Homo sapiens: one gene and its partners. The protein of the gene in region 1 purifies or fractionates together with the protein of each later gene. This does not show direct contact. Each region holds a gene or a part of one and is shown on either strand. Other genes may lie near its edges.

Evidence for each region. The genes of interacting proteins can lie anywhere in the genome.
Region 2: the proteins of CHSY3 (region 1) and TLR5 purify together in Homo sapiens (affinity purification with mass spectrometry; one large-scale study listed by BioGRID and IntAct). This does not show direct contact.
Region 3: the proteins of CHSY3 (region 1) and STK17B purify together in Homo sapiens (affinity purification with mass spectrometry; one large-scale study listed by BioGRID and IntAct). This does not show direct contact.

What each region holds. Positions count from the first base shown.
Region 1 is NC_000005.10:129,910,965-129,914,464, forward strand, and holds part of CHSY3 (chondroitin sulfate synthase 3), read left to right. Parts: intron 1-3,500. UniProt on the Homo sapiens protein: Has both beta-1,3-glucuronic acid and beta-1,4-N-acetylgalactosamine transferase activity. Transfers glucuronic acid (GlcUA) from UDP-GlcUA and N-acetylgalactosamine (GalNAc) from UDP-GalNAc to the non-reducing end of the elongating chondroitin polymer.
Region 2 is NC_000001.11:223,133,249-223,136,748, reverse strand, and holds part of TLR5 (toll-like receptor 5 precursor), read left to right. Parts: intron 1-1,884; 5' UTR 1,885-2,067; intron 2,068-2,266; exon of another isoform or gene 2,267-3,500. UniProt on the Homo sapiens protein: Pattern recognition receptor (PRR) located on the cell surface that participates in the activation of innate immunity and inflammatory response.
Region 3 is NC_000002.12:196,137,079-196,140,578, reverse strand, and holds part of STK17B (serine/threonine-protein kinase 17B), read left to right. Parts: intron 1-779; coding exon 780-959; intron 960-2,849; coding exon 2,850-3,132; 3' UTR 3,133-3,500. UniProt on the Homo sapiens protein: Phosphorylates myosin light chains. Acts as a positive regulator of apoptosis.

The DNA.
Region 1 (3,500 bases):
TCACAAATTTTAGGATTTTTTTTTTTTTTTTTGGTTTATCCTCCTAACAAAAGTTCTTTCAGAGTTGAGAGTCCTGTTAAGGTGGCATGTTCATGATTTTTAAGTTTGAATAGATGAAGTGTTCATGATAGAATGTCATCTTTTAAAAATGGTGAACGTGCTTACAGATCTTATAAAAAGAGAATTGAAATAATTATTAAATAAAATATATAATTGTATAGTTTCCTTGAATATAAGTTATATTTTTTAAAAATCCAGGATTGAAGCTTCTAGTATTCTTCTTAACTGCTAAACTGAAATTACTTTCTCTGTGTTTGTATATACTATTAAAAATATGTTGTAAAAGAGAAAGAGAGAGAAAGGTAATAGCGGGATATGAACTGGGGTTTGAGCCACCATCCTAACACTTACTAGTTTAATTGTCTTTTGCAAGTTACTTCTTTAAGTCGTGTGTAATTCAACTGAAAGTGGAGATTTTAAGAGTGTTTATCTCATACATTTCAGGAAAGATTAGGTGAAATAATCCATGTAAAGCCCTTAATGTAGTGTCTGTCACATAGTAAATTTTCAGTAGATGTTAGTTTTTATTGTTCTAATGTTATAGATATCACGTACTATATTATACAACATGGATTCATATATTTCACTTAATAATCATTAGTAATGGATGGGTGATTCATTTACATCAAAAGGGTCAAAATAAAAAATAAATTCTCAGAGAGTTAAGCTTTTTTTGGCAAAGAATAAGAAACCAGTATGTTGCAGTATTTTAGAAATATGAGGAATTCAGTATTAGTAAAACTTACTATGGGCTGGGCGCAGTGGCTCATGCCTGTAATCCCAGCACTTTGGGAGGCTGACGCGGGCGGATCACTAGGTCAGGAGATCGAGACCATCCTGGCTAACATGGTGAAACCCCGTCTCTACTAAAAATACAAAAAATTAGCCAGGCGTGGTGGCGGGCGCCTGTAGTCCCAGCTACTTGGGAGGCTGAGGCAGGAGAATGGCGTGAACCCGGGAGGCGGAGCTTGCAGTGAGCCGAGATAGCCCACTGCACTCCAGTCTGGGAGACAGCAAGACTCCGTCTCAAAGAAACAAACAAACAACAACAACAAAAAAACTTACTATGAAATATGGACACCTGTTTTAAAAATGCATTACAAATATCTGTTTCAGTCTTTGCACCTAATATGTATAAGATATATATAACTGAATTTGAGGATGTTGTGTGGAAAATATTACTTAACAAGTTATTATTTAATATACATATATAAAGAATCCCAAACAGATCTACATAAGGAAAAAAATTACAGTATAGATTTCTAAATTAATTGCCAGAACAATGGCCCCCTTTTTTGAATTTCTCTGGCATCTTCAGTAGGGAAGGAAGTGAGTAGTATCTCATTCTCCAGTCAACTCATGAACACCCAGGGGCTTGTCTCTCAAGGCAGTGGGAACCTCCTCCTGGTGTACCTCAGGTCTTTGAGGTAATGATCTGCAGCTTCTGGCCTTTCTCTCAATAAGGCCCAGGTGGTCTGGGGAAATATGTCTTGCTTGTTGGTCTCTTGCTCTTTTTCTCTGTCTTCTCTGCTCACTTTTTCTATTTCCTTCCGCTTGGTGATAGATAAAATAAATTTCAAATGTATTTTGATATGTACTGCTTTTCACCAGGTTCCTAGTAAATTAATGTGCTCATATAGGCCAATCCAGATATCTTAAAAGATCACTGGATGTGCACCCAGACCACAGTAGATCACAGTTAGGCCTCCAGCATGGTCTGACCTGTTCAGAATAAAGAGGCCTTTGGTTGAGGGTGAGCCTTATACAGACTGGTTCTTTGTGTGCCTGTGATCATTGGAGAGTCTAAATTGAGATTCTCCCTTTCCCACTTAGGATTGAGGCATCTTGTTTTAAGGCCATATGGCAGATGTTAATAACCAACAGACTTCATGGGTTATACCTCAAACTTTATAAGCAAAGATTACTAACTGAATGAAGCATGCATTCTATTCTATTCACTCTGCAAGTGTTAGAATTTATTGGCCTCTCCTGTTGGCAAAGATCACACTTTTGGTTGAGCTCTATCTTGGCTACTGCTTTTCTAGAGCTGCAATCTGGCAGTTTGGGAGGCTGCATATGGCTCTTAAACACTGTTTGGCACATAGAGTATTTTAAGGTTTTTTGCTTTTGTTTTTGTTTTTTGACACCTTTAGCAGAGGCAGGCAATCTACAGTTCCCTTCATGTCCTCTTATTATTTGTAAGACTCTTCTTTCACGTTTATTTTCCCTGCCTGGCTTACATAGGCATAAAAGTTTTGATCTTTTGAACTAGATAATGCACATATTGCAAGTTTCATGATAATATTCTGTAGAAAATGAAGTGATTTTCCAGTGAGACTGAGAGGCATATTTAAAATACTTTAATTTATGGAAGAGTTAATATGTTACAAATTTGGCCATTAAAATTGTATATCATATAACATAGTTACATTTTATTATAGATATGTTTTTAGTAAATAACAAAAATATTCTCACTGTTAAAAATTATTTATACATTCATGTTCATTTTGTGTATTAGCAGAACTGAAAGTTTTGTTTTTTGATTTTGTTTTTAACAAGATCACTTATATTCAATTCATAAAATAATTTTAATTCTGATTATTGTTCTTCTCCCTTTGAAGGAGTTTTGCATTTCTTCTAAGAGTCAGTTTAAGAATAGTTTGTATTTATCATTTTAATGTTTGCAGTAAAATAGAGCCAAAGAAGATATCTATTTCATTCAATTAAATGTTATTTCAAAGACAGCAGGGTTCTATGTTGGTAAAAATATTTATCTGTAGTTTTAAAAATTATTTCATAAGACTAACTAGATTTTCATTAGACTCCTTAAAGTGATAATTTTACACTAGAATGTTTTATGTTCAATCTTAGTTTCTTAAAGTCTGTAAACACCCTAGGAAATTACATTATTTCACAAAAGGATATGTTCTGGAAGTGTTTTCCTGAGCTTGTAAGTAATATCAGAAAGCTGTACCATATGAAACTGAACTATCAATAAGTTCTTAATAACATATTTTTAAGGTTAAAATATCTGTGTTATTCTTATAGGGCTGCTGCACATCCTTCTTAGCTTCCTATTCCATATAAATTTCCCTTTTTTTTTGACACAGAGTTTCACTCTTGTCGTCCAGGCTGGAGTGCAATGCTGCAATCTTGGCTCACTGCAACCTCCCCCTCCCAGGTTCAAGTGATTCTCCTGCCTCAACCTCCCGAGTAGCTGGGATTACAGACATGCACCACCACACCCAGCTAACTTTGTATTTTTTTTAGTAGAGATGGGGTTTCTCCATGTTGGTCAGGATGGCCTCGAACTCCCAACCTCAGGTGATCTGCCTGCCTTGGCCTCCCAAAGTGCTGGGATTACAGGCGTAAGCCACCGCGCCCAGCCAAATTTCCCTCTTTTCTAATGTTGATTTTACTCAATCATGAACATGTTTATG
Region 2 (3,500 bases), on another chromosome or scaffold:
ATATGTCCCATCTCATTTACTCTTCATAACCATCCCATTTTACAGTCAGGGAAACTGTCTGGATTTGAACTCAGAAGACCATGATAAAGGCAAAATCAGAAGTCACTTTTAGTCCTGAGTTTCTGGGGTCTGAGATTCCTCCTCATCTTGGTCAGAGATATAACTGGGTTCAGATAGCTTCAAGACTACCTTTTCTTTTATTTCCCAACCTGTGAACCAAAAGGGTAGTGAGTGTGAATCTCTAGCATGCACAGATGTGCAAGAAATACTGCCTCTCCTCTATTTTCTAGATATTAATATTAGTTTAGAGCCTTCATCTCATCTGGCCAGCAACCATAGAAATCACCCCAGGTTGTGTCACTGTGTCACAATTTCAGATCTCTTATGCATTGCCAAGATCCCAGGGGCTCGGGTGCAGGTATCTCCTGCTCCCCCATCTGGTCCACTCGGGTTACCACTGAAGGCACTCTTGTGCCTGTCTTGCCTAGCAAGTCCTCACTGCTTCCAGACCACATAGCTAACTCACTGGGGTCCTGCCAGAGTCCTGTCTTCCTGGTGCTGACAGACCCCTTTTCCCTTCCTGTCTTCCTGTTTCTAGAAGCATGTCTCTCTGCTTTACCCATCAGCACACCCCACCCCTCTTCCCCCAACTTGGCAAAGACTTTGTGTCCCCAACCTAAGGCCCTGTTTGGAAAATCAAAGCCAGAAGAACTTGCAGGCTATTCCTGGTAGGGTTCTGACATATACCTGCCCTGGACCAATGACTAGGGAGCTGGCTACAGAGGTGGAGGTGAGCCTAGGAAAGCAGAAATACAAGGAGAGGGGGAAAAAAAAGTCAAATCTCAAAATATCTAGCCGCAGACATAAGCTCCTCTGAGGGTAATTTCTTGAGGGGGGAAAAAGTTGCTATTTAAAGCTAGGATATATGTGGTTCCATTTTTTTCATCGGTACATTAATAACATCATTTTCCACTATGTATCTTCAAGATCCGGTGTAACAGCCTTGCAAATTTGCCAGAATGAAGAAGGAATGTTCTGCTTCAGGGAGGATTGGCCCTGGTCTATGATTGCTGTCATGATGATACTCAGCAAGTTTCCTTAGATAACTTCAGAGTTAACAAGGATTTAAAAATGCTTCCATTTCAAACTCACCGTTATACATATGCAGAAACTGAGGACAATGAAAGTTAGAGTTGTCTAGGATACCCAGACTGTGGCTGAAGGAGGACTAGAACCGATATTTATCCTCTCCCAGCCCAGCATTTTTGCCATGGTCTCATGTATCTCGAAAGTAACCACCACTAGCAAGTTGGAGCCAAATCAACTAGCTGACTCCCTGCCCTGACTCAGAATGGAGCATAGCCACCCTGGGCAGCCTGCCCAGGCAGATTCCACATGCAGTAAACCTCCTTCGGGTCCCAGGACACTGGGCACAGGGTGGGGACCTGTGCTTCCAGCAGGGGTGCGCTCCCCAGCCTCACCTGTCCCTGCTTACAGTCCCTCAGGCAACACCAGTGAAATCATCTTCCTCTCAGGGCATCCTCATCCTGGCCTGAGTGCCCCCCACCTTTCCTTCTCAACCTCTTCAGGGCTTACCTTGCATCAGGGGGTGTCTCCAGCAGCTGCAGGGTGCATTGGATTTTATCTGCCTGGGAAGCTTTCTCTTGATTCCTTTGCTAGCCCAGCACAGACTACACATCCCTCTCAGAACAGTTCTCAAGTGTTTGATACTCTCTCTTCACATTCCCATTTCGTATCTAACTGATCAGGTTAATAGGGTTCCTAGTTGCCGGTCACCACCCCCACCCCAGCTGTTTCCAATTTACATCACACTCCAAATGATTTTTGCAGCGCTTAGCAGATTGTCTGTGTCATTACTTTCAGGGATGCTATACTGGACTTCCCTACTCTCATCTGCTCCAGCCCCCTGACCTTATAGTTGCCCAGCTTTCCTGGCAATTGACTTTGCCCATCAATACACAGGATTTAGCATCCAGGGAAGATGTCGGAGCCTCAGATGTTAATTTTCTAATTGAGAATGTTGGCGCTGTCCGAACCTGGAGACAGGTAGGGATGTTCACTTTCTGGGCGAGCCACCTTTTCCCGACGATTTTAAATGTTGTGCTAGTTGTTCGTTTTTAATAATCACTAAAAATTATTTCTTTCAATCAGATGCTTTAAAATTGTGTGCTAAAGAGTTATAATGTGCAAACAACGGGGAAGCCATTCTGTACCTAAACCATGTGTTTTCAACATAACTTTTCAGAGTATCAGCGCCTTTGCTTGCTGCTGTTTTTGCTGTTTTTTGATGCTGGGAACCACCACCTAAAGATAGTAAAGAAAACACAGGAAGCTTTCCGGTAACTCATGCTAAAGAAACACAAAATCACCCCAGTGCCTTGAGAAATTTCCTTTCCCTCTCTAACTTTCCCCTTCAGTGTTCTAAAGGGAAGGCGTTTCTGGTAAGGTGTAGTTGCGTAAATGATGGCTGCCTACTTCAGCAAGCAAGAACTGTTGGAGTATTAAGCATGGGTAACTGGATATTCTGGTTTGGGCACTGGAGGATCCCTGGAAGCCGGAAGCAGGCTGTTGCTGCCGGGGTAGGGGCGGCGGGGGTGGGAGGTAGAAACTTATTGCTGTGATTTTATAGGCAGTAAACTGATGCTTAGAGAGGTTCAGCACTCGCCCAAGCTCACACACCTACTAAACTGTGGAGCTAGGATTTGAATCCAGCTACAAATTTAGTTGTCATTGAAATGTCTAAATGCACTCTACTGCGCAAGCGATAGGAACTTCCCAGCGGAGCTCAGCTCAGGGACGCTTGCAGCTCCCCGCGCCCCGCTCGACTCTCCGGCCGCGGCTCCGCGGGCTCCTCCCCCTCGGTCCCTGCCCCTTTTGCGCCCTCTGCTGGTCTCTAGGGAAAGCGCATCTCCTGAAATCAGAAGTCGCACCCAAGCTGTCCCGTTTCCTTAGCTCCTAGTAAAGCGATATGACCCATCCATCCCCTCCTCCTCAAAGCCTCACATGAATCTTCTTTGAGGTACTCTCTGATGCTTCACTCTTCAGCGCTGAGAAAAATGGGGAGGAAGGGGAAGTGAATGTATTAGTATAGCCCCTTCTCAAAACCAATCGTGCAGCATCTTAGCCATGCCTTATCCTGGAAGAACGAGGCAGCTCACGTGGGCATGGGGGTAATGAGCAGGGAGGCAATTACAGACTCTTAGGTTCTCACCGCTAACAGTGTGGTCAGTGGACCAGCAGCAGCATCACGTGGGAGCCCGTTAGAAATGCAGACTCTCAGGTCCTTCAGCCACAGCCCTGATGAATCAGAATCACCGTTTCAAGGAGGTCTCAGGCGGGCCGTTTCAGGTTCCGAGCTCGCTTTGAGGCTCTGTGGATGTTTTGCAGCATATTCAATTTTGTTTTGTTCAAAGGTCACAGTGACAACTAAGTTTGCAGCGGGATTCAAATCCGAGCTCCACAGTGTAATAAATGTGAGA
Region 3 (3,500 bases), on another chromosome or scaffold:
AGCTAGAAGAAGGTATTTGTTAAGCAGAATAATTAGGTCAGGCCCACCCAAAAATGTACTTTTATGAGAGTACATCTCTGGGAAATTATGAGTTTTTGTAGCTAGCCAAGAGAGAATACCATAGGGAATAGAACCAGAACTGATACTGGAGCTTCAGTTGAGACCACAAAGGGGACTGACTCCTCAGACCAAGTGGAAGGTTTAGACCTGTTCTGTGTTCTGTGGAACTGCTCATGGGTTTGCCCAGGAAAAAAGATGGTATGGCTAAATAAGTTGGTGAAACATGTACTATATTGTCTTTTTCTGGCTCCTGGGCACCAGACTTGCCATTAACACATTTACAGATTTTAAAAGGTTTGCAGTGAAAAAATTTGCCTGCCCAGCTTTGTGCTTCGCCAAACTTGCAGCCTCTATTTGTGCAGAACCTCTCTTTACATCTCACAAGTCATTACTTTGCCATTGGAAACCACTTAGGAAATGCTGCAGCAGCTTTGTGTACTCCACGGCAGGTATCTGTGTGAAGGATAGACGGTAGCAATAATATATATTGAATACATTGTATTTATATAACACGTGCATTCCCTTGTGTTCTCTTTCTGTGAGGCACACTTTGAGATCATTATTTTAGTTTTAATAATATAGGAACTTTGAAAAGCAATGTAAATCTGTAGTTTAACCGTACCAGTTTTGAGGAGAGGAGTATGTTGAATGTCGATTGTACTTTGTATAAATGTTTAAAAATTAACATACATTTTAAGTTCCCCTCCCTTGTTTTTCAGGAATATTGGTATAATAGCATATATGTTGTTAACTCACACATCACCATTTGTGGGAGAAGATAATCAAGAAACATACCTCAATATTTCTCAAGTTAATGTAGATTATTCGGAAGAAACTTTTTCATCAGTTTCACAGCTGGCCACAGACTTTATTCAGAGCCTTTTAGTAAAAAATCCAGAGTAAGTAATAATTTGTTTAAATACTATTACAAATTTAATTTGTTTAAATACTATTACAGAATAAATAATATATACCTATTAAGAAAGTATATTCTAAAATAGTATAAAATTATTAGAAATATGTACAAGTTCTAGGTAAAATAGGTGGTATGAGCAATCATTAACAAATACATAACTTCAGATATAAAATATACAACAGGGGATTTTGAAGTAAAGAAAAGATTTGAGTTACTTCTCTCACAAACCACTACTAATCCCTGAAATTACCTAAAATAATTAGTCATAGAAATTTACAATACACATGGCTGGTTATGATAAGACTTTATTGTAAATGATTTACAGTTTAATGATTTTACGGCCGGGCGCGGTGGCTCACGCCTGTAATCCCAGCACTTTGGGAGGCTGAGGCAGATGGATCACGAGGTCAGGAGATTGAGACCCTCCTGGCTAACACGGTGAAACCCCATCTCTACTAAAAATACAAAAAAATTAGCCAGGCATGGTGGCAGGCATCTGTAGTCCCAGCTACTTGGGAGGCTGAGGCAGAATGGCGTGAATCCGGGAGGCAGAGCTTCCAGTAAGCAGAGATCGCGCCACTGCACTCTAGCCTAGATGACAGAGCAAGACTCCGTCTCAAAAAAATAAATAAAATAAAATAATTTTACATACATAACAAGTATCATTTACTGATTGTGAAATCTTGAAGGATTGGATGCCCTTTGACAACCTTACAAAAGAAGCGAGTCAGCTGAGCGAGGTGGCTCACGCCTGTATTCCCAGCACTTTGGGAGGCCAAGGCGGCCAGATCATGAGGTCAGGAGTTCGAGACTAGCCTGGCCAATATAGTGAAACACCATCTCTACTAAAAATACAAAAGTTAGCCGGGCATGGTGGCATGCACCTATAGTTCCAGCTACTCAGGAGGCTGAGGCAGGAGAATTGCTTGAACCCAGAAAGCAGAGGTTGTGGTGAGCTGAGATCGCACCACTGCACTCCAGCCTGGGTGACAGAGTGAGACTACATTGCAAAAAAAAAAACCAAAAAAAAACCAAAAGTGATTTGGAGGTTAGTTAAGCACCGTCTTTCAAAATATAAAGACCCACTAGCTTTACTAGTAACTCATCCTATGAACATAATTAGAGAAGATCCCAAAAAACATTTTCTCAATATTCATTGAAGCATATTTATAATAGCAAAATGCTAGAAGCTTCAATGGGCATCTGGTTAAATAAATTATGGTGTATCCATATGGAAGAGTACTAAATAATACAGCTGTTAATAAATATGTTAACTCTGTACTGATGTGGAAAAATGCTTGAGATGCATTATTGAGTAATAAAGCAAATTGCAGAAACATGGAGTATGTGAAGCTGTGTATGTGTATGTGTGTGTATATGTTTGTGTATGTATATGCACATATATGTAGAAAAAATATCTGGAAGTGGGATTGGGGAATGAGAAAACAATTTTACTTTTTATCTTCATGAGAGATAATATGGTGTAATGCTTAAAAGCACAGACGATAGAGTCAAAGTTCCACTTAACTACCATTTACAAGTTAGGAGATTTGGGGTAAATTTCAAGCCTCCTGGTACCCTACTTTGCATATCTGTTAAATGAGGGTAATAATAGTACCCATTTCATGAGTTTGTTATGATTGTTAAATAATGTATTTGAAGCGTATAGAATAGTCCCTGGCATATAACTAAGCATTCAGTAAATGTTAGCAGCTATTATCATTATTATTCTCTTCTGTACTGTTTGGATTTTATACTATGAGTATGTTTTATTTTCACAAGAAGTAAAAAATATGTCTATAATCTATCAAACTGAAGACATTTTCAACTTGATTTTTAGTTCTCAATTTTCCCTTGGTGCTTTCTTTCAAAGGAAAAGACCAACAGCAGAGATATGCCTTTCTCATTCTTGGCTACAGCAGTGGGACTTTGAAAACTTGTTTCACCCTGAAGAAACTTCCAGTTCCTCTCAAACTCAGGATCATTCTGTAAGGTCCTCTGAAGACAAGACTTCTAAATCCTCCTGTAATGGAACCTGTGGTGATAGAGAAGACAAAGAGAATATCCCAGAGGATAGCAGCATGGTTTCCAAAAGATTTCGTTTCGATGACTCATTACCCAATCCCCATGAACTTGTTTCAGATTTGCTCTGTTAGCACTTTTTTCTTTGACTCATTTGGACTGAATTTGAAATTTTATATCCACTCCAGTGAGATTATGATTTGTAGCTTCATATATGACATGTTTATATTGTAAATGCACTTTTCCATGGAATAATTTAGGGAAGTGTTTTAATGTTAAATTACTAGTTGCTAGCATGTTATGATTTCATATCCTGAGATAGCTCTGCAGATAAGAAAATATTTAAATATATGACAAAAAGTAAAATTGTACATGTGAGTTTACATGTTAATGAAATAATTCAACTTCAAATGAACTTACCAGAATGTTTTGCATATCAACAAAAAAAGTGGCTTGAGTTTTATTATAGTTGGTGTAAACTGAACACAGTGAAGACATTGGA